4 linked regions of the Homo sapiens genome follow. The protein of the gene in region 4 purifies or fractionates together with the protein of the main gene of each other region. This does not show direct contact. Each region holds a gene or a part of one and is shown on either strand. Other genes may lie near its edges.

Region 1 (5,539 bases), on a different chromosome or scaffold from region 4:
ACAGAATGGTAGGCCAAAGCTGCCAAGTTTGGGACTTGTATACCTGTTTGGAAATGTCAAAAGTTCTTGTTAAGTAGAAGCAATTGTACTGATCTTACACATATAGATTCTCCAGAACTCTTGCCAGGATATATCCTTCATCCTACCTCGTAAATATTAAGAGAGTTGTTACAAACCTAGTTGATACACTAGAGAAAATAGTAATTCTGTTCACAACTTAGCAGCAGAGTCATAAACTGAATAAAGTTTGATTCCTTAGATGAGCAGGTAAAACTGTCATTGTTTACTCTTTAAAGGAGAAAGAACGTTGATAAATCAACCCAGCAAAGACCATTCTTTTTGGTTTGCTGCCTGTGTAAAGACGACTACCAATGTTCATTTTACTACCATGAAAACTTAGACCAGAGGGTTGGTGGGTATTAATGTGATCTGTTAAGGGAGACTAGTAACCTATTTTATTGGATATAGACATTTTCATAGAAATGCTCAACACTACTGAATACATCAAAAACCATACTTTATTTTATGTATAGCAATACAATTTACATATTAAATAACACTATAATAGAATGATTTGATATAGTTTAAACAGAAGAAAAAGGGAAAAATTTCAGGTTACAAAACCCCTCCCCCTGAACAAATTTAAAAAAAAAAAAAAAGCACACTTTTTCCAAATGGGTCAATGTGACGAATGTTTTCAGTGACTAATTATGTCTAATTCCTATTGCACAAATGGTCAATGGAATTAAAAAGAAAACCCAACTTTCACAATCACTGCCTCAAAGAAATAACACATGTTGGATTCTTTTGGAATGTAAAGATGGTTTTTGCTACTTCAATACACAGAAAGTTGAATTCACATATCCACCACAAAAAGGAAAAAAAACTATGACGGAGTTGAAACTAGAAAAAAATTAGCTTTATATGAAAATATAAAATTCTATGATTATATACCATAGATACAAAGTTCCCAGAAGATGCTTACCCAAGCAACAAAATATTTACAGTTTTAATGATTTTTAGCTATTTCAAAATGGAGTGAAAGAAACATGAGTCAATGTGAAGCCAGAATTCTTTAGAAACAATGGCTGCTTGCTAGTTTCAAATGTCCTAACAAAAAAGGAGTCACTACCCCAAATGTTGGAGAGTTGCGACATTTTATAAAATCGACTTTCTCCTTTTCTGGAGATGTTTATTTCTTAAAACTCAAGATATTTTTCTTGAAATTAATTATCCTCTGTAGAAAATGCTTCCCTTTGCAAATATTTAACAAAAATACTAAAAACAGTTTAACAGCTAAGACAAAGTAGAGGCCAAATATCATTATTACAATTCCTTCCTATTTGTAGCATGCCTTCTTCTTTCTAGAGATAAGTAAAGCCAGTATTGTATGTTAAATGACAACTAAGGGAAAGCGCAAAGGGTTAAGTGAAATTACATCTGTTAAAAAAAAAAAAAAAGCAGGCATTTTCCCTTCATATAAAAATTCACTGGCACCATTTGAACATAAACTTTAGAACATAGGAGTTGAAAATGCATTTCCAGTATAACCACTAAATTCTTAAGACAAACTACATTTTGATTCTTAAATTATGATGAGTTGGGTTTTTTTTTTAGTTTTGCTTAGAATTAGTAATATGTATCTTTGGTAAATTGGTATCTATATTTTAATTTTAAATACAGTATATATGCATTTAAGAAAAATTCATAACAAGGCAGTTGTGCTGTGTCATTATAAAATAATTATTTACTGATTTCAGTATGTCACTCTGGGCTAAAAACTCCAACAACCAGAACTTGAACACCGTAACCCTTCTTTGGCCTCGCTGGACTCTTCTACTTGAATAGACTAAAAACTCTAAAGGCATAAAAATTAGGAAGACCAATTAGCTAATCTTACTCTTTTTGAAATTCAGAAATTAACTTTTTTCATATTAAAGAAGATATCTTGGCTATCGCATATAAGAAAGAGTTCTCCTGATGGCAACAGCATGTCTTTTCTTTGATGTCCAGCACAGCCACTTGGTCTGATCATTGCAATTTATTTTTATATGATGTGTGCATTTTGCTTACCTAGAGCTAAATTCATATACACAAACAGCTTATTTTATTAAGTTGCACACATTAATTTGCAATAGCTATTTCCTTTCCCCTGAGTGCAAGTGTTAATAACCTTGTTATGTACTTAAGCAATGTGCTTATGTCTCAAAGAAAACCCTGTCTTTGAAACTCTGCCTCTGGAAAGATGCAAGCTATGTTTTTGCCAATAACACATGAATAATAATAGTGAGGATATGCTGTCTCTTGCAGGGGTGAGGACCTGCTAAATATAACTGTCCTCATTGAAGTGTGTTTGGACTACTTTGGCAAGATGGGCAAGTAGCAATTGCTTATAATTCAGTGGGTCAGGATATGAAGACTTTGGTTCAAGCTCGCTGAAGACACACAGATTGCTCACAGGGAACTTCTAAACTCTTTCTTTTATTGTTTCTATCCTATTTACTAGCTGTTTTTTCGTGATTCTGAAACCACTGTAAGGGACAGCCACAGAATTGCATTGGAGGGTATGCCTTTCTACGAATTGAGCCCTCTATAAATAGCACAGGAGGGAATACTTGCTATTTGTCTTTGAACCAGTGTTTACTTTTATTAAGAAAAAATTACTGAGAAAGGGACCATGAACCCTAACTCGAACATTACTTTTGAACATCAAGCCCACTTTGCCATCTACTAAAAAGTGTTAACTCATATCAATACTCTATACATCTAAAACAACCCACTTAATTGACTAAAAAAAGAGTCTAGCTCATTGCTTTCCTGATTCTCCTCAGCATCTGGCAGTTGTAGTGTTCCTGTGTTCAAGCTTTACTTGAACTTTACAGAGCTTCCTGTGTCACCTCTGGTTGGAGCGGAGGGGCTGTAAAGGTGTCTCTCATCTAGCACATGCAACTTAGCATGCTCTCTTGAACATCTTATCTCAGGACTAGCTTACGCAGCTCTTGAAAAGCAGAGTATTCCATGTTGTTAAATCTATGTATTGAGAAGATGAGATAAACCCTGGTAAATTATGTAGTTTATGAAAACTCCATTGACCTGGCCTTTGCATTCAAATTCTTTAACTTGGCCCATAGCTTCTTTCTCCTTAGCACTTCTGGTCCTCCAGCACCATTCTGACAAACTTTATGAAAGCCAAATCAAGATAAATAGAACCTCAGTGCTGATCATCATTAATGTTTAATGCATACCCAGATGGCATGACAGCAGCCAGCGTGGCCTTTTTGTTGAAGTTAATTGACATAAAAAGTAAATAAAACCCTATTCTTCCTAACAGGCCCAGTTCTGGTGATGATTTCACTTTTGACAGAAGCTGTCCCTCAAAAGCAAACATGCAATAGAAGAAACAGATCTCAGTAAGTAGCTTATTTTCCTTACAAACACTACTGAAATTTCTTATTAATGCTCCTAATTTTCCCATTATGCACTGCAGCGTGAGTATGGCTCCAGAGGCTGCACCTAATAACTTCCTTGAGCTCTAATGATTATTGGTATCTTTTACTAATGTGTATCTGTTCTAAACTACACAAAAGCATACAAAGCCATCTCCCTCTTTTAAAAACTTGAAAATGTGGGTATCACCTTTAATTAAATATTTTAAATTTCTCTCTCCAAATCAGATTTATCTATGTGTGGGAGTTTAGATAGTCCCAAGACTTTTGCTAAGACAGTATTTCCAATTTAATCTTAAGTAGAAAAATGTATGTAATTAAGAGATTTATTATAAAACATTTGGCAAAGAAGGAAAGAAAACAGTAACTATGTAGGTAGTTTTTATTAGATTGCTATAGGAGTAATAGGGAATTTTTAGAGGACTAGTTTCAAAATTACACACCTGCAGAAGTTTTCATTCTTCTACCTACTGTGAGGTATGGTATTACAAACTAAGAAGCATTAATGGAGAATAACTAAAGGGTCTCATAACTGAGTTGTATATAATATTGCTATCTTGCTATTGTTAAAGATAGCCCTGATTTTAGGATGTAGCTATTTTAGAGAGTCAAAATGGAAATAACACATTGTCCACATAGCTACTGTGAAAGCTGTAATACAGAGTTATCCTTTATTTTGACACATTTTTAAAAAACTGTGAATATAACTTTGTAACTAATAAGGGATGTTCACATGAAGCAGTTCTTAAGCCTTCTAACTTCTTAAGGGATCTCTTAACCAGCATAAATGGAACTGTTTCAAGGCCATGACATTAACAGACCTTTTTAGGTCCCAGTAGCCTGCTAGTCTGTAAAAGAAAACAATGCTATCCACTCCATTAAAATACAGAAGGCATACAGTATTGAACAGTGCCTAAAATAAAAAGGAGAGGAGGACTGAAGAAAAGTACAGCATTGCCTGCTAGTAGAATGCAACCACTTCAGCAATAATAATAATAAAAGCAATATTCACTGTCATAACAAAGACCTTCACTGTATTGAACTAAAAAAAAGTAGCATGTATGTCGTCATGGAATGTCACATCAGGGTTTGCTGTTGTATAAGATTATAGGCAGTAACACTGATCATATAGTGCAAACTAGGTAAAATTGCGTTTCACTGTGTGAAATGAACAGAGGTGCAAATGCTCAGTAGGATACCATTAAGACATAAAATGGCAAAAAATAAATATCAAAACTTTTATCAGTGTAAAAAAGTAACTGGGTTATTGTATAACCTAGAGTCTGGCAAAAAAGGCCTCAAAAAAGTTCTCAGTCTTCAGAAGTTTACAAATTAAGTGCCCTTTCAGGATTCCAGTCACACTAGGGACTCCATGCTCTCAGCAGGGTCTGATTCATCTGCAATAAGAACAGCACCATTTTTGTCTACTGTCATGGGACCATTTCCATTTTCTTTAGTGCTGACCAAGCTAAGCATTGCTTTATAGATGAACTGGTATTGTTCCTGAAAAACAAGAGGAAGACAGTTTGAGCCAAAGAACAGTTTAGTGATTTCACATAAGGTGGAAATACCAATTAAAATGGTAATTGTGAAAAACACACTAGAGAAACAGCAATAGCATAAATGTTATCTAAAAAAACTAAAAAAAAAATCATTTGAATTTATTATAGTCAAGACCTATACCTTCTTCATGTCCTTTTGATCTCTGTTAGCTTGGAACCAATTCTCAGTGCTGATTGTTAATGAACAATCATTATTGGTTAATGAAGATAACCAATATCTGGTTAATATCTGGTTAATGAAGATAACCAGAGAATACTATCCTCTAAAGCAGGGCTTCTCAACCTGAGCACTACTGACATTTTGGGCCACATAATTCTATGGTGTTGAGGGCTGTCTTGTGCTGTGTAGTTTGCTTAGCAGCATCTCTGGCTTGTATCCTCTAGATGCCATCCATCTGCAGTTGTGACAAGCAAAAAAGTCTCCAGACATGGCCAAATGTCCCCTGGGGGGCAAAATCACCCCCAATTGAGAACTACTGCTCTAAACTGTGAGTCTGAGTTTCAACTGATGTAGTACAGGTTTTACACATA
Region 2 (7,834 bases), on a different chromosome or scaffold from region 4:
GACTAGAAACCTGCTCAAATTAGCTTCAGAGAAAAAGAGAAACTATTATTAGGTTGGTCCAAAAATAATTGTGGGTTTTGCCACTGAAAGTAATAGAATGATACACAGATATTTCATGGATGTAAACCCAGGAAGAACAGTCAGATCTCACACAATGGCAAACAAAATTAAAAGACCTAGAACAATCTCTCTCCGTGTCTCTCTCTTTCTCTGTCTGTCTGTCTCATGCATGCACACCTCAGTTTCTTGGTCTCTCATATCTGTCTCTGTTTTTGATAAATGGTGCAGATTGGCTTTTTCTACACTCATTGAAGAAAATGAATGGGCTGGGCATAATTCCAACACTTTGGGAAGGTGGGGCAGGAGGATTGCTTGAGGCCAAGAGTTCCAGACCAGCCTTGGCAACACAGTGAGACCCCATCTCTATAAAAAGAAAAATTAAAAAATTAGACAGGTGTGGTGGTGCATGCCTGCCCAGCTACTCGGGAGGCTGAGGTAGCAGGATCACTTGAGCCCAGGAGTTTGAGGCTGAAACGAACTATGAATACCACTGCACTCTAGCCTAGGCAGCACAAAGCCCCATCTCAAAAAAAAAAAAAAAAAAAAAAAGGCGGGGGGGAAAAAAGAAAGAAAATGGTTGTACAAAGTGAACACAAATTTCCATTTCATGTGATCAGCAAAGATTCTAGAATCTGTATACCATGAATGTAAATCCCTAGGAGATTGATCGAGCTTGGTCAGGTGTTTGGCTTAGCGACAAGGAGGCAGGATTATGTGACTCAGTGACTTCTAGAAGGGGATCATGGAAGACTCTGAGAAAGCCCTATTGGCAGAGCTGGCAAATAGCTTTGCATGTCTGCCACAAGCATGAAAACAAGTAAGGCCAGTCAACCGTAGTTGTGCTAGAATCGAAATATGAATATGATTCATCAGTGTATTGATGGGTCCAGGAAGCTAGGAAATCTAGAATTATTTTATTTGTTTTGTTTGTGTTTAAGTTAGGAGTGTCTCTTTTATTTTGGCCATTATGCACCCCAGCCAGTGCTTAGAGACTTGTGTGTGAGTCAAGCTCAATGGATTCTAAGCTTTACTCACTCATCCCATGGATTCACTGAGTAACATTTGAGAAGCCACTGGTTACTTCACTTCAAAATTACTAGGACTTACCTAGAAGTTCATATTTACCACCCTTTTCAGGTCTAGGGAGAAGAATGTGGAATTGTTAGGAAACTCATTTCAATGTATTATAATAACTATTAATATTTATTAGAAATTTATTTACTAGGTATAGGACTAGACTCTTATAACAAAAATGTATAAGATTTCAGAGACCCAGCATTTAAATGAGAAGGTAGAATATACACATATAACTCAATAATATATTACTCTGTAATACATACAAAAGAAAGTTTATTTGGGGGAAAAAACAAAAACAAAAAAAAAAAGCTAGAGGAAACCAGAGCCAAGAAAGAAGAATGATTAGTTCTCAGTGAAGAAAATGGGAAAGGCTGGGCTAATAATATAGAATTTGACTGGAGCCTTGAAGTAGAATTTGAAACAATGGAAGAAAAAAAGAAAGCTATTCTAAGTAGAAAAATAAGGAATTGACAATGAAGAATGGGAAAGGCAGGCCAGTGAACTCGTGAATTTGGCCTAAACATAGTGTGCAAGAGGGAAAGATAGCCACGGAGCCCACAGAGGTGAGTTGGAGCCAAATCGTGACCTTAAACCCTAGGGTACTTTGAATGTCCTGAAGACATCTAATGATTTTCAGCAGATCAGTCCTGCATTTTTGGATAACTGTGACAACAGGTATAAAAGATGAACTGGAACAGGAGAGAAGGAAGCACAGAGAGATTATATGGGAGTTTGTCACCATGGTGAAAGATCAAAAGGGTTTGAACCAAAGAGAGATTAGCAGTGGAACAGAAAATAGGAGATGGCACAGAAAACCCTAGTAGGGTGTAAAGACAGAATTGGAATGGGATGTTAGCAGGGGGCTGGTGGTGCACCTGGGGAAGAAAGCAGAGGTTTCTGGTTTGGGTGATTGTCTATATGAAAACGGGATAAACAAAGGAGGGCAGGGCATGACGATACAACAGATCAGAAGGAAACACTGGGGAAACTTATCTGAGCCGTGTTCCCCAACAAAACTCTGTCTTGAGCTAAGGAAAAGAAAAAGAGGGGAAGGCCTCACTTCACCCCTGAGTGCTTTTTGGAGTAGGGTCTCTGGGTCTCTCAAGATCCTTTCAAGTGGCCAGTGAAGTCAAAACTATTTTCATAACAATACTGAGACGTTACTGCGTTTTTCACTGTGTTGACATTTGCCCTCATGGTGCAAGAACAAGGATGGGGACTGGTGGTCATTGTATTCTTCATCACTGGGCACTCACAGGAAGAGAAAGGGAGAGGGACACGGAGAGGCCAGCAGATCAATGAATTTTAATGCCACGGAATAGGAAAAACCATTGATATGGTTTCAGATTCCACATTGCAACTTTAAGAAACTACCACTTGTTGAGTTTTGGTGTAGTATCAGGGGATTATCCAGAATTATCTCCTGTTTTTCTAAGTCCATATCTGTGTAACACCAGATTAATCAATATAATTTCACCAAAACTACATGCCGTAACAGATTGGATGCAGAAGCAGATCTGAGAATCCAAATGTCTGTTTTTAAGCCAGATATTTAAAATATTAGCAAAAATGTAAAGCAATGCCACTCTTCTCCCGGATTCTTTCATTTGGAGAAATATAGTTATTTTTCATAAAATGTACATTATTTATGTTCACACATAATAGGATTTTTGTTAAAGGACTTACTGAGTAAAGGGCTCTTGAGACCAAAGAGTTTGAGAAGCCCCAGCTTAACCTTCCATATTTCCTGCTCTGAATGTGGTGTCCCTCACAACTGCAACTAGGCAGGAGAGCACCCTGGAAGGGGTTCTCAAACTACTTTGTCTCAGGAACACTTTATCCTCTTAAAATTAATGTGAGGCAGGAGTTTGTTCTTTGTTTCTAAAAGTTTTGCCTGGCTCTGGAAAATCGTAGCTCCTGACTTATTCTGCACTTCATGACAGTGTAATGTTAATTTGTCCAGTTCTGAGAACAAAAACCAAGAAGGATGCATGTTATTTCCCCCCACCCCCAGAGATAAAACACAAATTCCTGTCTCACATTAAAGGAAGTGTCCTGCCTCCCAAACACAGGTCTGTTCCAAACACTTACTCACATTTCAGTGAGTCAGAAGGAAACAGACAGATATTCATCTCCCTGAAACCTGGCTGACTTCCTTCAAAAAGTCTGTAAGGAGCGTCAAAATCGTGTCACCGGTTAGTGAGCAGCCACCTAAGAGCTCTCAGGTGATAGCCGGAGTTTTAGTAAGCAGGTGAGTACCCCAGACAATTCAGAAAAAAATGCCTTCAGGTGTTTGTCAAGGTGAGTAAGTGCAGCCAGTAAGTGACTGATAAGAAAACAGGAAAGAGCCTGGGACTATATAATTTGGGTTCAAAGGGTATTAGTCATAAGCCATCAGCAGCAACATCTGATGCATACCAATTTAATACTTTAACAATGTGACACATCAGCCCTATCTATAGTAAAGAGAAGAGCTTGATTTTTATGAATTATTAAGTCCTTCCCACCTTGAGCCACTTTGCTTCCTAGAGGCAGTATCTCAGGCATCCCATTCAGCTCATAGTAGCATTCCATGAAGATCTGGAATGATGACAATAATGATGATTATTAGACTCATAACTCCTTAAGCTTGATTTATGAAAACAGTTCGTTCCTTCACAAAAGTAGTCACTGGAAGAATTCTGGTTTCAGCAATGTGCTGGAAATTTGTGGCCAAACTTTTGGATAAAACATAAGATTCAGACAAGAAAAATTAATATCCTATTTCTTAGGTTTTTAACTAAAAATCTCGGATATAGAATGTTCTCTTTCCAGATGTGAGACTGAAATAATGGAAGAAAATGGTCACAGTCTATGTCATGGTGTAATGTAGACAGGGAGAGTCACAAGTGCATGTATGGGCTCTCAGCCTTTTCTCTGGCCTTGAAGTTAATCTCCTAAACTCAGTCATTAAATCAGCTCTTAATTATCTCGGAGGAGAGGAAGTAATGATGATTTCTCTCTCTCTGTCTCTCTGTCACACACACACACACACACACAGCTCTTGCAGCAGGTATTGCTTAAATATCACCTTGGATAATCATAACTTGTGAGCAGATCTTCTTTCCTGATGAGTTAGTTTCTAACCTGGTCATTCTGCGCTTATTTTTGTCCCTTTCTCCACCCACTTAGGAAAAACAGAGAAAGGGACGCACCGCGCAGCCCCTAGGCACTGTGGTTTAGGGCTAGTGCCCTCGGCACCCGCTGCCAGGAGCCGGGCGCTGCCAAGGGCTGCGGAGGGGCCACGTTCTCCCGGGGACTGGGGCATCTCCTGCGTGCTGGCGACAGGCTGCGGGGGCGGAGTGGTGCCAGGGCGGGCGCTCGCCCGTCGGATATGCCCACCCGTCCCGTCCAGGGCAGGAAAGCCTGCCAGGGCGCCATCCCCATCCCCACCGCCTCCAGGCTGCCGGGGCTGGGCCGCTGTACGGGAGCCAAGGTGCGGTGCCCCGCGTGTGGACGAGCCGAGGTGCAGCCCGCGGGGCCGCAGGGCCGGGGTGGGGCGGGGCGCGGCCGGAGCAGATCCGGTGTTTGCGGAATCAGGAGGGGCGGGCTGGGGCGGGCCCTCGGCGCTGCAGGAGCTGCCCAGAAACTTTTCCCTGCTCTCACCGGGCGGGGGAGAGAAGCCCTCTGGACAGCTTCTAGAGTGTGCAGGTTCTCGTATCCCTCGGCCAAGGGTATCCTCTGCAAACCTCTGCAAACCCAGCGCAACTACGGTCCCCCGGTCAGACCCAGGATGGGGCCAGAACGGACAGGGGCCGCGCCGCTGCCGCTGCTGCTGGTGTTAGCGCTCAGTCAAGGTAAGCGGGGATTTCGCTCTGCATCGGCTGCAGGAGGGACCCGCGCGGCTTCCTGGGGCTCGCTGGAGGGATTGGGCGGAACTAGGGAGCGAGCTCCGTGTGTTCCCTCGGATTCCACGTGGACTCGGGCTCCCAGCCACCAGGACCTGCTTGGAAAGAGATACTTCTTCGTTCCCTTCCTGCTATCCCAGGCCTTGCGTCCCCATTAGGCGCGTCTCGCCCTGTCTGTTAAGCACCCTCCAAAGTCATCTCAGTGAGTGCTTTGTTTTAGGTACACACACGCACACACACACACACACACACAGACAGACACGCACGCACTCAAGCATGGACAGTGTGGGGATCCGCGGGTGTCCTGGAGACCGCGAGTCCTGCAGCCCAACTTCCCCTGGCTCAGACAGGTGCCGCGCCTGCCAGAGACCAGGGAAATCCGGAATCCATTGCTGATGGCGGCCTGCAGCTCCCCAGCGCGGTGCTTGCTGGCTTTGCAGAAGCCTGCGAGCCCCAAAATGCTTATTTTTCAACCCAAGGATGTGAATAATGCCTCTATTTCTTACTTGAGGACGAAGCGCTGTGTTTCTTCCCGGGGGGACTTGGAATAAACCAAGCGCCACTTAAATACTTGGCAGAGGGGAATTCTTCCTTCCCTTCTGCCTTCCTCTTATTGTTGTAACATTGTCTATTCGACGAATGTAAACTTAGGCTAGGAAAAGTTCTTTTCACTTCTGGATCCTAGATGCCGCAATGAGAGAATAAGCCGGAGCAGCCGCTCTAACTGTAGTGCTGTGGCAGTGGGGCCCGCCCACCTCCTGAGTTCTTTTACACTAAGAGGAGGAAATAAGGCTGGGGTGGAGAGCTTTTGTGGGACCATCGCCTGAGTACTTTTTCCCTGACCATTAGGCAGAGCTAGAGTGTGGTCAAATTTAAGAATTTTAGTTTATTTGGAGGGAGAAGGAGACACGTTTGTATAATGTAGTTTGAACAGCGATCAAAACAAAACAAAAAAGTTGTCTCTGATTTTAAAGTGTGTGTGTGGTTTTTTTTTTTTTTTTTTACAAAGAAGATAAATATTTCCTAAGCTGTCCTCCTTTGAGACTGACATTCAGCCACTTGCTATTCTTTATTGTGGAGGAATGAATCCTAGTCCACGTCAACCTGGTGGCATTTTCTCCAGGTCAGAGATAAGAGAGAAATAGCACCACTGTCCCCAGCCCGAGCAGAGAATGGGCATCTTAGGTTTTCTGTCTCACCTGTATTGGGTGCTTCAGATACTTTCTCCGGGAACCAGATGAGTTGTTTTGAGGGGCCACCAACCCTAATCTACGGATTTCAGGTAAAGTTGTACTTGACATTGAAAATGAGTCTCTGGAATACAACTAGAGCTAATAGAAATATAAACCCAAGCTTTTCATCTCTCTGTAATTACCCAGTATTAAAATAAGCTGTGGAAACATAACATCATTTTCTTATCTTTGAAATGTTGAGGCTTGTTATGTAAAGAGCAGTGAGAAATTCTTTAATGGAATGTAACGCTGCAAGGCATGAAGTCAGGAACAGAGACTTAACCTGGAGTTAATAAGGACACCTCAGGGCAAGCAAGCAGAGATGATCGAAAATAACATCTGCAAAAGTTTTGTGCATTTATTCCCTCCTCCTACTCCAGCCATTTGTATACTCAAGGAACAGGTTTTCTCTTAATTTAAGATCCTCATAAGAAAGCTCTCTCATTTGTGATATCACTTGAGGTTCCTGGAGAAGCAGCATCGTTTTTTGGTACCATGAGTATCCCAGGTTAACATGAATAAGTGAAATCTCTAGCTCAGTAGTATCTAAAATTTTGTATGGCATTACCCTATCTGTATAAAATTTCTCATTCACTATCATTACACACACACACACACATAACTGTTATAAAATTATAGTATGTACAATTGCATCATATCACATACAAAAATTCAAATTTAAAAGCTATGTATGTGACAGAGCTTCATTATGATGATCTTAAATTAAGAGAAAACCTGTTCCTTGAGTATACAATATGCCGTGTTATGTATATACAATTGTATATACATATATATACCTGTTAATATGTATAAAACACATGTGTGTTTAGACATCTTGTATCATCTCTAGCATACATGCAAACCACTTTAAAAACATATCACCTTCAAATCTTATTTTAACACTTACATTCAAATTTGCTTTCCAGAAACCTTTTCACAGGTGCTTAAGAAGAAAATGTACTCATAGTTTAGTCCTATATTTATCACCTTTCAGTGCTCATTTCTAAGTGCTTAATACCATGAAAATGGTAAATGGGCAGTCTGAGGATGAAAAAGAGAGAACATAAGAGGCCTAGATAATCTATAAACTAAATATAGGCCATTAGCAGAAGGCAAATGTAATTTTGAAATGAAGGCCATCACGTATTTTCTCCAGTATGTTCACAGGTCAAGGATAGTCCTTCCACCCAGGTTCTAGACCACATCTTTTCTTACTATCCCTGAAACCCTGCCCCAGCACTCATCCCTCTTCAGTGCACGTCTTCAAATTCTCTCCCTAATGTAACTTCCCCTCAGTCTGTAAATATTCTAATTTTTCTTATTGTAAAAAAAATATTTCTTTTGATATTTAATTTCCTCCTGAAACATCCTGTACTTCTGGCTTCTGTTCTCTTCCTGTTTTTCTCCTCCTTTCCTCGCTGCTCTCCCGTCATCTCCTTCACAGGCTCTTTCCTTGTTGGTGTTTGCAGAGTTTCATCCTGAATCCTCCTCTTCATTCTGCAGATTGTCTCTGGGCCCATTCCCTGCACAGGTCCCTATCTCCAGCCAGCCTCCCCTTCTGAGTTCCAGATCAGTATT
Region 3 (7,060 bases), on a different chromosome or scaffold from region 4:
TTATGCCCTTGAGGAGGTGTCACTTTTCCATGTTTCTTTATTCATTATGAGATGACATTATGACTTAGAGGACATCAATGTCTTCTCAGAGCAGAAAGCTTAAAGGTTTTATTAGAATAAAACCTCTCCCATATCTCTAAATCTAAACCTTGTCAAGATGAAACATCTTAAAGACAATTGAAACTGTAAAATGGGAAGTGAAATATTTTATACTTTGAAATTAAGTGGCTACACAGATAGTATTACCCTTGTGTTTTCTTATTATACATCCACAGTTTCATTTGCAATTCAAGCTCAGTTTCCTTTTCTTGCCGCTGTTCCACTGTTGCAAGCCAGTTACCAAAGCAGCCAAATGCAGCCTTTGTTAGTTCAATTTGGATCAGACCATAATCATTAATATATTCTTGCTGTATAATATCTAACTGATGAGTAAAAAAAACCAAAAAACCAAAATGTTTATTAACATAAATACACAAATGTTACAGCATTCAAGAAATGATAATTAACTACATCCAAGACAACTTCTGTACTGTATAGTAATAGATTTTTAAATAAAGGCAAAAATGAACTAATTGTTACTATGGACACCAAAATTGCCATTAAAAAAGGGAACACATTATAATAGTATCAATTTGGTGGTAATTATTCTTCAATGACCTTGAATATTAGCGATTACTAACACCCACTATATGATACAACAGAACCGTTAATTTATAGTAGTGCTTTTCTTTTGTTTCTAAGAACAAACAGCTTTACATCATCTCAAGGCTAGATTCTCTGTCAACAGAAACAAGCAGAACAGAAATAAACCTACAATCTTTAAGAAATGAAAAAAGATAGCCAATGTAAGTAGGCCAGCATTTATTTATGGTTGTTTTAAAAAAAATCCCATTTCCTTGCCTATACTAAGTAAATAAAATGCCTACTATTAAGTGTACTAAATGCCTACAATTTACAGGCATTATACTTGAGATAAGCATAAAATGATTAATATGCTTCCTTTTTTTTGAGGGGTCTAAAGGCCACGGTGAGAAAGAGCTAGTGTCACAGTTGCTATGACAGAGATCTGTAAAGAGTACTGTGGGGAACAAGAAAAGTGGGACATCTGGATTGGACTTATCAGGATTGGAAGAAGTGTTCCTCTTTAATCTACACTGAAAATTTTATCTTCAATATGTGAATATGATAGTGTTTCACCACGAAGCAGATACAAATTTGTACTGTCAATCTACCTATTTTTGTTTCTTTATCCTTGTGACTCAAAAGCACAGATGTATGGGATAGCTAATAGGAGGGCATTCTGAAACAAAAGACAGAGACAGCACGTACAGGAGTGCCAACTGGCTTACATGTAACCTGCAACTGTGGCCTCAATGGAATTATGCTCTGAACAACTGAACTAAGTAACCACGGATAATACTATGTTCAAGTAAACATATGCACAGGATCTTGTTTTAAAAGCTACTAAACAAATTGCTTGACTCCAGTGGTACTGTAAAGAGCTTTCATTAATTTCAAGGCTAATGATCAAAATCTTACATTGTATAACTGTTTATCACTCTGGAGAGAATAAAACTGCAGGTGGCCAGGTTTTCCATTCAAAACCAAAGCTTTAGTTCTTGGATCAATCATCAAACCAGTGAAGATACTCCTATCTGCAGAAGTGGTGACAAATAACAGGTGAAATAAGAGAAATATGCACTCTTTAAAATGTTCATGATTCCAAATCCACTGAGTTCTGCAATACCTTTCACTAGGCCTTGAATTACTGCGGATGCTTCAAGGTTTCGGTGAATAATTATTATCTCTGTGGGTAGAAAAAAATAGGTATTTAAATATCAATAGGTTAGAGAAAGCTTGTCCAACCTGTGGCTCAGGGTGGCTTTTTATGCAGCCTAACACAAATTCATAAACTTTCTGAAAACATTATTATTATTATTATTTTTAGCTCATCAGCTATCATTAGTGTTAGTATATTTTATGTCTGGCCCAAGACAATTCTTTTTCCAATGTGGCTCAGGGAAGCCAAAAGATTGGACACCCCTGGGTTAGAGCTTCAAGGTGAAGGAGTCACCTGAGTTTATATTCTGAAATATACCAGAATACAAAACAACCCAGTAAGTTCAATGAACTCAGAGTACTACTAGAAAATCAGGAATACATTTTGTGAGTTAGTGGAAAATCTAGGGGTGGGGATAGGGGCTTTTCTGTTGGAGTCTTTAAGTTTTTATCAGTTGTGCCTATGAACACATTTTAAGTGTTAATGCAAAATCTATAGAGTATATCTAATAAAAATAGTTTAACTTTTTCATGCCACTAAATGGACTGCTCACAGTTATGTTCTTTTTTGAAAGAAAAGGAAGTGGATTTACAAAGATATCCTAGTCTAGGCTGAGTAGTCACTGGATGAACAAAGTTTTGGAGAAATATAAGACTGCCTCTATTTCTATCAAATCTACAGGACTCTTGCCCCCAGGTAACAGCTGTATCAAAAGAGAATCTTGCAGTATTCTTTTGAAAACGGAAGGTTTATGAAAGCACCAATGTCCACTTCCAAACCTTCCCTTTATTTCCTCATGTCATCCCACACTAAAAGACTTTGAAAATGTAAGTGGCACATCAATAACCAAATACACTTAGCCTTCCATTTTATAAAAATAATTCTCAAAAATGTTGAATTCTGGTGGTGCCTAGGGGTAGAGAGGGGTGGAAAAGAGAGGAGTAATGCAAGGAAAAGAAGGCTCATTAAATCTCATACGCTACTCTTAGTTTTAGGTCTCTTTATTCTCTGTTCCCTACAGATGCTAGCTAATTTATGGTGTTTATATATTTCCTCATAATAAAAAATTTAGACTTACTATTATCAGAGTGAGAAGTGCAGAATAAATCTCCTGCAGGCGAGACTGAGATATGTTCAATAGTAGCTCCTAAACGCGGGAGAAACTCCTTATTCTTCTCTGTTGCATCGCGCCACTCTACAAGTACAGATTCACGACCGCCACTCAGCAGACTGGTGCCTTCATATCCATTCAAGGAAATTAAAAGGATGGTGTTTTGAGGAAAAAAGAGAAAGAAAAATATAATTAACACTTTTGTTTTTGCTACCGTACTAGAGAAATAAACTCATTTAAAGCTACAAAAAGTGTCTTCGTATCTTTTAATATACTCTGAAGACAAATGATCACTGGTTCAGGAATTTTTTTTCCAGTGATATCTGATTAGTTTGTTGCTGACCAACTCCTCTGTTGACAACTAGAAAAGCTGGACAAACAAATATCCTTTAGGCCAAGATAGCTTCACTGATAAATTTTTCTAAACATTTAAATACTATACCAAAAATATTATATATATATAAAAAAAAGCCGATTTCACGACAGATGAAAATTCTTAAGCAAAATACTATACCAATGATATATTAAAGGGTATCATGTCATCGCAGTTTACTGCAAGAATGAGATTACCTTAACAGCTGAAAAATAAATTAATGTAACCCCACTTACAGAACAAAAGGAAAACACCATGATTATTTGAATAGATGCAGAAAAAGCAAATGACAGAATTCTATACGTATTCATGATAATACCTCTCAGAAACTCAGGAATGGATGGGACCCTTTGAATCTCATCAAGAGTACCTGGATAACATCTATAGCAAACACCACACTAAAAGTTAAACTATTGAAAACTTTCCCTTTGTGATTAAGAATATTATTACCATTTTGATTCAACGTTAACTGGATGTCTAGTGCACTGAAATGAAACCAGAAAGGCTTAAGGATTGGAAAGAAGGAAATAATCACTTCCATGTTCACAGACAGCATGACTACACCAAGGCATAGCCAAAATAGTTTATAGATAAACTTATGGAATAAGTAAATTTAGCTGATTATAAGAGAAATATATAACAATCAATTTTATTTTTAAATACTAGCAAGTCAATTAGAATATAGAGTAAAACATACTATCAAAAGACCATCAAATGTCTAGTGAAAAATATATATGAGAACCACAGAAAAAAAATCCTAACTCATGGATATAAAGACCTAAAAAGTGGAAAAGTATTTATTATGATTACAAATTAAAATACTCAATACTATAAAAACATCAATTCTCCTCAAATATAGCAACAGCTGTATTGTCAACACGGTAGCCACCAGTCAAATGTGGCCAATTAAATCTAATGGTTTGAAAACTAACAAAAGCCTGCAAAAGACTACCTTAATGACTAAATGGATAAATAGGACACTGTTTCAGACTGTTTTCTCAAAAGTATTCCATCAAATAACCATTTTTCATTCTTTCATGAATCTAAAACAACTGGTTTTAAAGATCACTGGTTTATAATGGGGTTTTTATCAAATTTTCTAAAGCTGCAAGCTGATAAAATCTAGCTAAACAGAAGACTAAAGGTATGTAGTTGTGATGTACACAAACAAAATTAAGAAGTTTAATCTGATATATACACATATATGATACATTGTGCATATAGTTCATATATGCCTCAAGTTATGAAGTTCTCAAAAACAACTAAAATCTGTATTTCTTTTATATTTACGCAGCTATTTTTTCTTTTTCTAATAACTCATACCCACACAGTCAGTAAGGACATTTCACTGACAACTATGTACTGTAACCATTATTTCTCATTTAAAAATATTCATGCTACTTGAAATATAATATCAAGAATTCAAATAATGGCCGGGCACGGTAGCTCACGCCTGTAATCCCAGCACTTTGGGAGGTGGAGGCTGGGGGGATCGCCTGAGGTCAGGAGTTTGAGACCAGCCTGGCAACACGGTGAAACCCCATCTCTACAAAAAATACAAATAATTAGCTGGGCGTGGTGGTGCGTGCCTGTAGTCCCAGCTACTTAGGGGGCTGAGGTGGGAGGACCATTTGAGCCCAGGAAGTCGAGGTTGCAGTGAGCCAAGATGGTGCCACTGCACTCCAGCTTGGGTAACAAAGTGAGACCTTGTCTAAAAAAAAAAAAACCCCTGCCTGGAACATATACAGACACATACATATGGATACCAAGCACTCACTAGTATTTTGAGGGTGTGGAGTGGGAAGGAGGGTAGAGAATACAAATGAGCAGCCTACATTGTCTCCATACACTAGTCATTACTCCCCAAACCATAATCGGGTTGAAGGTGTCTCCTATTTCCTGGGGCTTCCGGGCATTACACCCAAGTAAGACTCTAAGGATACCACAGCATATGGTACCATCTAAGACTTGTCCTGTCAGTCTCCAGGAAGACCTGCAGAAAGAAAAATCACTTTTCCTGGCTTCTCATTTTTTAGGCACACAATCTTCTCTAGTATGTAGTAACTTTCTTAAAGAACCAGTCAAATAAACTGACATAACTCTCACCACATGGGTGTGAGGATGCTAAAAGTAAACAAAGACAAGATGTACTTCCCTGTATTTCTGTTGAAGACCACTTTACTTTAAAGGTATTTTTACTCGCTATAGCTACACTACACAAAGCTGTGACAGAAGTCATGCAGCTTAAATGAAACAATGATGGAGATTAATTTAAAATAGCTAATGTCAAATAAGGCCATGTAACAGTTAAAAACAAGAGCTCTAAAATCAGAACCAGGTCCAAACCCACCTACCCACCATGTCATGTTAGGCAAGTTAATTATCAACTCCAAATCCTACTTCCTTTATCTGTAAAATGAGTATAATGCCACTCATTTCCTACGGCCAATGATTAAATCAGATAATGGATGTAGTGTTAGAATAGTTACTTGCACCTGATAAGCTACAGTTATGGACCACACACACTTAGTTATGTAGACAGATATACCTTCAAAAAGTCATATAATTTAAATAGGTTATTTATGTAAACAACAGAGATTTTTATCACAAATGTACACTTTAGAACTTTGAAGGGCTTCAAAACCTAAAGCATATTGTGCTGAGCAAAGCCCAAAATACAGGGGTAACACACAAGTGTTTGGAATTCATTTGGCTCATGCAGTTTTAAATCTTCCAAACTAAAAATACAGTGAATTAAAACACTTGAATCATATCTTCAAAAGTTCATTTTAATAATTAAACCCGCACTTACCTGTCACTGAAAAAGCCAAATCCATAACCATATCATGGTGCCAATGTAAACATGTGTACGTATATTTCTTATCATCATAAAAATTCCTCCTATTGGAGAAAGATAAAACTCTTATTTTGACCATAGGTTTAAGTTAGGAAAACAATGGCATGCCAAATACAATAAACATAATATATACCAAACATACTAAATCATAATATAAAGGCTTCTGGTCTTAATGTGCACATTTTCTATTTCTAACCAGAGTGACTGACTTCTATAAATAATATGCCATCTGTGGTACCCTCCTAGATATTCACTATTGTCAGTCTTTCCTTTTTGGAGAAAGGCAAACAAAAAGTTTTCTTCAATAAAATGATTACAGGCAACAAAAAATGTTTCACTCACTTTATAAGTCCAAGGCTAGAAATTCTAAAACAGTAAGTATGAAATGAAAAGCACACAAAAAAGGAAAGGGAGGCTGTTTCTTGGGACCCAGAGATAGCCCTGTTCTACAGGACTAACGTAAAATAGTACATAAATGATCGCCATGCTCTTCATGAGCAAACTGACCAAAGACGAATTTTGCCATCCATGTGACCAGATGCGATGCAGTCTTCCGTTGGGTGACATGCTACACATGTAAAATTGTTTTTAGCATGCTTCTTATTTCTTGATGATGATAAAGTAAACCTAGGAGAAAAAAAAAACAAATTCCCTTAATTATTAAAGTCTCTTGATAAGTGGTGATGTAGTTAAGTAAAAGAGAGTTCCCAGCAATAGCAACCAAAATTGTAGAGCTCAGAATTCAATAAATATAACTGCAGGATTTTTTTTAAAAAGAAAATTTTGATCAAGAATCAAGCATTCTATTTTGTAAACATATATCAATATACAACATGAACTTCATGTAACTAATATTCTACCATAATAATTTATCTATGGAAGCCACTGACATTTAAGTAAAGATTTTAGTGATTTTTTTTTGGCCTGGTCAAAGCTTGT
Region 4 (7,000 bases):
CTCTGGTTGGACATACTACTGTCAGTGATGGTCACACCCATTTATATGTAAAACGAAGGCAGATTTCTTTGCTTGGTCATCTGTTATATCATTTAGTCTGCTTTCTTCCTGTAATTTATATCTTACATGTCTGTAATCTGTGGGTAATAGTCAGCCTGTCCACAGTAAAGGTTTTTCATGGTTGTCTTAGATTGGGTTCCCTAGAAGCAGAACCTGAGATGGGGATTTAGGTGCATGTTATGTATTGAGGCAGTTGTCTTCCCTGTAGGGAAGTGAGGGAAGTGGGATGGAAAAGGGAAGGAGCCAAGGTGACATCTAGCCTTGGCCTGGTCCACAGTGGGAGGGCTCTCCAGGCTGGCCTTTTGGATAGAATCGGTCAGTTGGTGGCTGTGATCTGTCCTCTGGATGCAGGTCATGGTGCATAACTGGGTCAGTTAGGTCTTATCAGCCAAGGACAATTTTCTGGAGAGGGGAGGGCAGTTGTGAGCTGTCAGCAGGCAACCCTCACAGCAGCACCAGCAAAAGGGAACTGGGTCAGCCACCAACGGGGTCTGCACAGCTAAACTCCCATGCCTGGCTCTTTCTGGTTGGCTGAATAAGCAGATGAATGAACACCAGGCAGGGCCTGTACCTAGGAGTGTCCCCAGTTCCCAGGTTCTTCATGTCCAAATCCTTCTACGCCAAGCACTGTGGATAGAGCCTTGATCACAACAAAGGTCTTCAAGGAGTTTGTAGTATAGTATTGGAAAATTCTAGTGAATACTGCTCATTGCTCCTTCAGCATCCATTCTCCCAGCTTCCCAATAGATCCTCTTCTTCTTTCTTCTCCTCTTCCCCTCCTCGCCTTCTTCTCCTCTTATCCTCTTCTCCTCATCTTCTCTTTCTTTTTCTTCTTTTCAATAATATACTCTTCTCTCAGGCAGCCCATGTGCCTCAGGGACACAAGCCCCTCCCAGCTCCAAGGGAGGGCCTGATTGGTGCAGGGGCATCTCAACTCTCCTGCTACTGGTTGGTTCAGGAGCCAGACCTAATCCAATCAGTGCAGGCGGGAATTTCTGCCCTGATCCTTGTTTAGGGAGGGGCATGTGGCTTAAGGGGTGCAATGAGGGAGGATTTCAAGACTGTTTGTTGGAATGTTGGGGTGCTGGCCTGTCTCTTTCCTGGGATGTCCTGGGCAGGAAGGCACGGCAGGCAGGGACTAACAGCAACTTTGCCCCGTGAGGGAAGTGACTCTAAGACAAAGCCATAGCACAAAGAGGATGCATCCAAGGGCTCTTAAGAGAAACCGGGGCTGGGTCCATGGAAAAAGCTGAACCCAGAGCCCACCTTGCCTCTGGACCCCCAGTGACGTTGAGTTACATGGTCACTTCCTTGAAGCCAAAAACATCCTCACAAATACGGGCAGATACATATTTTTTAAAACGCCAGGACTACTAAGTAGGCAGGAGTTCTGTGCTCTGCTCTCATGCCTTCGTAGCTGTGTGACATTCCAGAAAGCACTTCCCTCTCTGAACCTGGGTGCTCTCTAAGCACCTTCTACCCCCAAAAACCACTTCTTGGTAAAACTTAATAACAGCTGGTGATGAACAAGGGCTCTATGGGCTGCTGAAAACAGATTGTAGAAGAGAAATTAGTAAAATTCCCAAGAATGCTTCAGATAAACAAAAGAAAATAGGAAGGAGTCCATTTCAGGGTTTAGGGGGCTGCACTGTTTACAAAGGCTGCCTGGATTAAAAATAGAAGCTTCTGCTATTCAGAGTGGGCGCAAGTTCCCAGTGCCTAGGAGTGGAGAAGTTAAGACATGTCCCTTGAGCTGAGAAAACATTCTCAGCAGCGGTGAAACCAGCAGCCTGGCAGGAGCCTTGGAGGAGGCCGGGCAGGGCAGGGCTGGAGCAGGGAAGGAACCCACAGAAAGCACCATCCTGGGAACACTCTGTGGCACGCACAGCTTTACAGTGATGTTCAGTCACTGATCCCTAAACATTGTCAAGTTTCAGAAACAAGAACGGATTATGGAATTCCAGGTCTGGATAGCGGTCCTCCCCAACTTGTGTGTTTGTTAGGTGTTTTGATGCAAGTCTCTTCACCCTTCAGGCTTTCAGTATCTTCATCTATTAAATGAGGGGGAGGTGGTGATAATTTGGTTTCTTCCCCCATGAGATACTGCTGATCAGGTGGCACTGCCACCACCTCCCCGCCCCCCCACCCCCGCCCCAAGGGACACAGCCCACACCCTGGCCTGGTGGGGTCTCAGCACCCTCCCACCTCAGCATGCCTGTGTCACAGCAGTCTCCACCGGGCCTCCTGCCCTGGCTCCCTGAGTGCGAACATCTGGCCTTTCTCCCCCAAACAGCCAACACCAGCCCCATTCCGGGCCTTTCCATCTGTCATCACGGGCTTTAAACTGACCCAAATTTGTCAGTTGGGTTAGATGCCTGAGTAGGCTAATTTTTTAATTCCATCAATTAAAATAGCTGAGCAACTGGTTATTTCCCAATCAATTGATAGGTTGCTCTCCTGAGTTGAGCAATTGTTTGTTGGCTTTTAGTTTGGAATGTGTGTGTGTGTGTGTGTGTGTGTGTGTATCTGTGTGTGTTTGGCTGTGACTCAAAATAAATAAAGAGATAAAACTAAAACAAAACCAAGAAAAAAAAAAGAACAAGATAGAAACCGAACCCCATGGGGTACACATGGGACACATGAAGCTATAGTCAGTATTTCAATTCTCTGATCATCCTGCTCCCATGTTCCCTATTAATTTGGAAAAATAATTTCCTCCTCTTATGACTAGATAAAATAGTGCCTCACTGACCCGGAAGTCATTCATCCTAAAGACAGATCCAAACCAGATGGGAAGCGTCCGCACAGGTAGCATAGGCGGCTTAAGTCTACACGAGAAGGGGTTTCCCTGTGGGAGGGCACTGCTTCCACCTCCCACACCGTCCCGATCAGCCAACTGAAGCAACAGTGAGCTGTGACAGCAGACTCAACAATAATAATATTTCTAATTTTACAAAGCGCTTCCCCCGTTATCACCACAGTTTGAAGAAATGATACCTAAACAGGGATAACACACACAGGCTACAGAAGGTCTACTCAGTGCACAGTGGTTTGGAACCACAGTTTTCTTTAGAGAGAACTCCCCCTGCCCCCAGGCAGGTCACTCCTCTCCTGATAGTTGACCACCCTACCTCTCTTCCCTGGGATGAAACTGACTGGCTAGAAAGAGTTGATGTAATATCCTTCCTCAAGCCAATGAGACCAAAAAGTTTAGAATGCTTTGGACAAGTTCCCATGTCTTGAGAACCAACAGAGCGAGCTTCAGGCAACCAGTGTGTTGCCTCCTCATCGGGGAGATGCTTCCTACACTTGGCTGCATGCACCAGACACCCCTTCCTGCCCCAGAAACCCCTTCCTGCCCCAGGAACCCCAGGCCCTCTGAGATGCCACCTTTCCTCAGAACCTTTTCTGAGCGCCTCTTGGAATGTGCAGCACTTGGGTAAACCCGGTGCCCTTCTTTGGGCTGAGAAATCTGAGGAATCCTTGCTAAAGGTGTGCCTTGGCCTCCCAACAGAAGACCCTCACAAGAGCCCTGCACTTGAAGAGCCACTTCAGGCCTGCTCTGTGGCTCACCTGTTTTAAAGGACTGATATTGCTTTAAGAAGAAATCACTCTATATACATCAGAAATTAAATTATTATTTTTAAAAGCACATTTAGAACTAAGTGGTGGTAAGACATATCTTCTCTCCCCTGTTAGAAGTAAGAGAAGCCCCATAAACAAACTCTGATGACCACAGCAATATACTTTCTCCTCCTTTCTGGAAAACAAAGAGTGGAGAACATGTCCCCATTCCACTTGTTAATTTGCCCTGTAGATTTCTGCCTTCATTCCTTAAGAAATATGTTTGAGTCCTCACTCTGTGTCAGGCACTGGGGCACTAGAGCAATGCCCAGGAAATGGTCCATATTGATGCTGCAGACTGACTCTCAGCCCAACAAGCCCCACAGCCTTCTCCAAACCCTCAAGAACCTTCCAGCTGTTTGCCTGACCTGGTCCTCCTCCCCTTCCGTGACTGCATTCTAGGAGGAGGGGTATGTGGGTTGGAAAGGCTGAGAGATCATTGACTTCAGGACTATCTGTGCCATAAAGAGGGAAATGAGGCCCAGAGTGGACAAAGGAAGAGATTGTGGTTGCAGTGTGCATCAGTGGTGAAGGCAATTCTGCAGAAATGCATTGAACAGGCTGCTTCGCCTCACTTTCTCCATGAACCAGTGAGTTGATGGATCCAGCCTCTATCCTCAGAGAGAGATAAAGATTCACAAACAGCTCACACACAAGGATGACTGTGGCCAGCATCATGCAGCAGGGGTGGACCCAAATTGGAGGCACCACTTATGTCCCAAGACTTCTCCCATCCCCACATTCATGAAGCTTCTCTCTCTAGAAAAGCACTGGGCAGTAGACATCCATAACACTCTGCCAAAGATGTTCAACAAATTCTTCAAGAGGGGTTTACCTGGATTTTGGAGATCCTCTAGAATTTTCCTTTCATACACCCACCTGTGGACAGTGCTACATCCTCCCTCGATCTGAAGCAAGCTTCGTGTGGAATAGACAAGAAGCACCGGATCTTTTGGAAGGGAAGGTCTCATACTCACAGTACATTCAGAAGTCCACTGAGCCAGCCAAATGCATCTGCCTTTCTTGCTTTATTATTTATACTTCCATGGCCTCTTGGAAGAGTAAGGCCAATACAATGAGCTGGCGTGTATGGGCAGGTGATGGAGGCTTTGGAAGCAATGGCCACACCACCTCCCTGGGAGCTCTCCCTGTGGAGGCAGCGGCATGATATCGTACCGGCCACACCCACTGGGCTGTGGCTTCCCTAATGAAGTCCACTAGACACCTTTTGCAACGACTCTATTTCCCAGTTGCTCTCTGGGTATGGAAGCCAGAATAGTCTACAAGTAGATGAGCCTAGAGTCCTAATACTGAATATTCAACCCAAGTATCATCATTGCTGCCCATGGGAACAGGTTGATAACTGGGCTTCTTGGGGTCATTCCCATGTATCCCTCACCATTTTCTTTTGCTATTTTTTCATGTGTTCCAAATTAGCTTAGCTCACATGGAGTCCTTTGGGGAAAAAGTTCGAGGACAGACAAATAGACAACTAAATGCGTAGATTCCGTTAGGAAGAACAGGAATTAAAAATTCACCTCAAAGTTCATGATCATGGAAATTACAAATTGTTTTCCTATTGCACATTTGTTGTGCTGGAGTGGTGAGACTATGGTTGGGTTCTCTTGTGCTGGGGTGATGAGACTATGGCTGAACTCTGTTGTCTCTGCCTCCCCCTTACTTTTCTATATTTTCCAAATTGTCTTTAAAAAACAGATATTACTTTAGGATTAATTTTTCAAAGGCTTAAAATAAAATAAAATAAAATTCTTATCTTCAGTTTTACCACTTGGAGAGAGAAGCATTGAAGATGTCTGGGAACATTCCAAACCCACTGATGCTGGGATGGAAGAGCAATAAGCTCAACATGCCTATCTTCAATTCTGCTTAATCTAATGAGCTCCAGTGAGCAGAAAAAACATTCACATATTTCTTCCCCATTGAGTGGTGTTTCACAGTAGGTCGTATCTGATCGAAACACCTCGGAGGCCTCGGAAGAGCCATGGGTGTTGTTTTCCCTTCCTTTGGGTTGCTGCTTTTAGCAAAGACATGACTCTCATTCCCAGAGCTATTCAGAGCAGGTGACCCAGACAAACCTTCTTGGAAAGAGGAGACACTAGTTCATTCCCAGGCCTGGTTCAGCCACAGACTCTATGCACTCAGGGCCTAGATGAACAAGGACATGGGGATATGGGTTCCAGAGCTGCCCAGATCAGAAACCACCCCTGAAGATGCCCCTGAGCCACCACCTTCCCTCGCCCAGGCAGCAAGGCCTGCCTGCTGGGATGCATGGGTCAAAGACACCATGTGAACGGCGAGATGAGAGACTTCACACTGGCCGGCTCTGGTCACCAAGGGGTTGCAGAGGAGACAGAAGGACAGGCTGAGACCAAGGAGTACAGGTGGTCCTATTGTGACTGTAGAGGCTATAGTGGTGGAAGATCAGAGCCAGTGAGGTGGACACTGACCCAGAATCCAGGTCTGTACATCTGGTTTGGGAGGGAAAACCTGCCCTCTAATGACAGGGTGAGGCCTGTGTGAGTCTGAGGGCCATGCCTCCCTGCCTGCCCCAGACACTCTCTGCTCCAGGGTAAATTTCCACGGGAGACATGCAGGAAGAGGCCAGGGTAGGGATGCCCACTGAGCGACACGGGCAGCACTGGGGATGCCTGAGTTCAGACAGTGCCAGAGGCCAGTAGGCCATGGGCAGAGGGTAGCCACAGGTGGGCTGCCGGCCAGCCAGGCGCTACACCTGGGTTGGGAGTTGCCTGTCCTGCCTGGGGAAAAGAGCCCCGGAGGAGGTGCACGTCTGTGGAGAGCAGTGAAGGATATAGGCATGGGAGGGAGCAGCCCCCTTCACGTGCCCATTAAGGGACCTCAGCCTAGACTTGAGGCTGCCCCGACTGCCTGTAGTTAAGATTCAGGTCCCATGGATTTGTGCCTGGTGTTCATCAGGGGCTAGAAGGATGAAGGAGATTGTCCAGCCTGGGAAGATTATTGTTATAAGTTAATGGGCCTAAGGCACTGGTCGGAGGCTGAGGGGTGGCCTGAATATTTTTTACATTATTGCCATGTGTAGGGGTGAGAGGGGAGCTAGGAATTTCTGGTCCTCATCCTCACTCTTTGGATCTCCCAGATGGAAGAAACATGTTAGTGACCATGCCACACCCTAACTCCAAGAGCTCTGGTCTGATGGGAACACAGAACACAGAGATACAAGTCACACTAGGTAAGGGCCAAGGTAGAGGTAACTCTGGGAGGTGAGAACACACAAGAGGCACCTGATCCTAGCTGGGGTGCTCTGGACTGTGTCATA

What was found.
Region 1: the proteins of SERPINA12 (region 4) and PTPRG purify together in Homo sapiens (co-immunoprecipitation; 3 studies listed by BioGRID and IntAct, with this or other methods). This does not show direct contact.
Region 2: the proteins of SERPINA12 (region 4) and ITGA2 purify together in Homo sapiens (affinity purification with mass spectrometry; 2 studies listed by BioGRID and IntAct, with this or other methods). This does not show direct contact.
Region 3: the proteins of SERPINA12 (region 4) and WDR75 purify together in Homo sapiens (co-immunoprecipitation; 3 studies listed by BioGRID and IntAct, with this or other methods). This does not show direct contact.

The regions. Positions count from the first base shown.
Region 1 is NC_000003.12:62,292,571-62,298,109, reverse strand, and holds the end of PTPRG (receptor-type tyrosine-protein phosphatase gamma isoform 1 precursor), read right to left. Parts: intron 5,497-5,539; exon of another isoform or gene 5,393-5,496; intron 4,950-5,392; coding exon 4,803-4,949; 3' UTR 501-4,802; downstream 1-500.
Region 2 is NC_000005.10:52,984,560-52,992,393, forward strand, and holds the start of ITGA2 (integrin alpha-2 precursor), read left to right. Parts: upstream 1-4,792; 5' UTR 4,793-4,909; coding exon 4,910-4,973; intron 4,974-5,530; exon of another isoform or gene 5,531-5,727; intron 5,728-7,834. UniProt on the Homo sapiens protein: Integrin alpha-2/beta-1 is a receptor for laminin, collagen, collagen C-propeptides, fibronectin and E-cadherin. It recognizes the proline-hydroxylated sequence G-F-P-G-E-R in collagen.
Region 3 is NC_000002.12:189,458,441-189,465,500, reverse strand, and holds part of WDR75 (WD repeat-containing protein 75), read right to left. Parts: intron 6,749-7,060; coding exon 6,629-6,748; intron 6,166-6,628; coding exon 6,077-6,165; intron 3,018-6,076; coding exon 2,859-3,017; intron 1,808-2,858; coding exon 1,748-1,807; intron 1,656-1,747; coding exon 1,540-1,655; intron 423-1,539; coding exon 247-422; intron 1-246. UniProt on the Homo sapiens protein: Ribosome biogenesis factor. Part of the small subunit (SSU) processome, first precursor of the small eukaryotic ribosomal subunit.
Region 4 is NC_000014.9:94,499,470-94,506,469, forward strand, and holds part of SERPINA12 (serpin A12 precursor), read right to left. Parts: intron 4,754-7,000; exon of another isoform or gene 4,564-4,753; intron 1-4,563. UniProt on the Homo sapiens protein: Adipokine that modulates insulin action by specifically inhibiting its target protease KLK7 in white adipose tissues.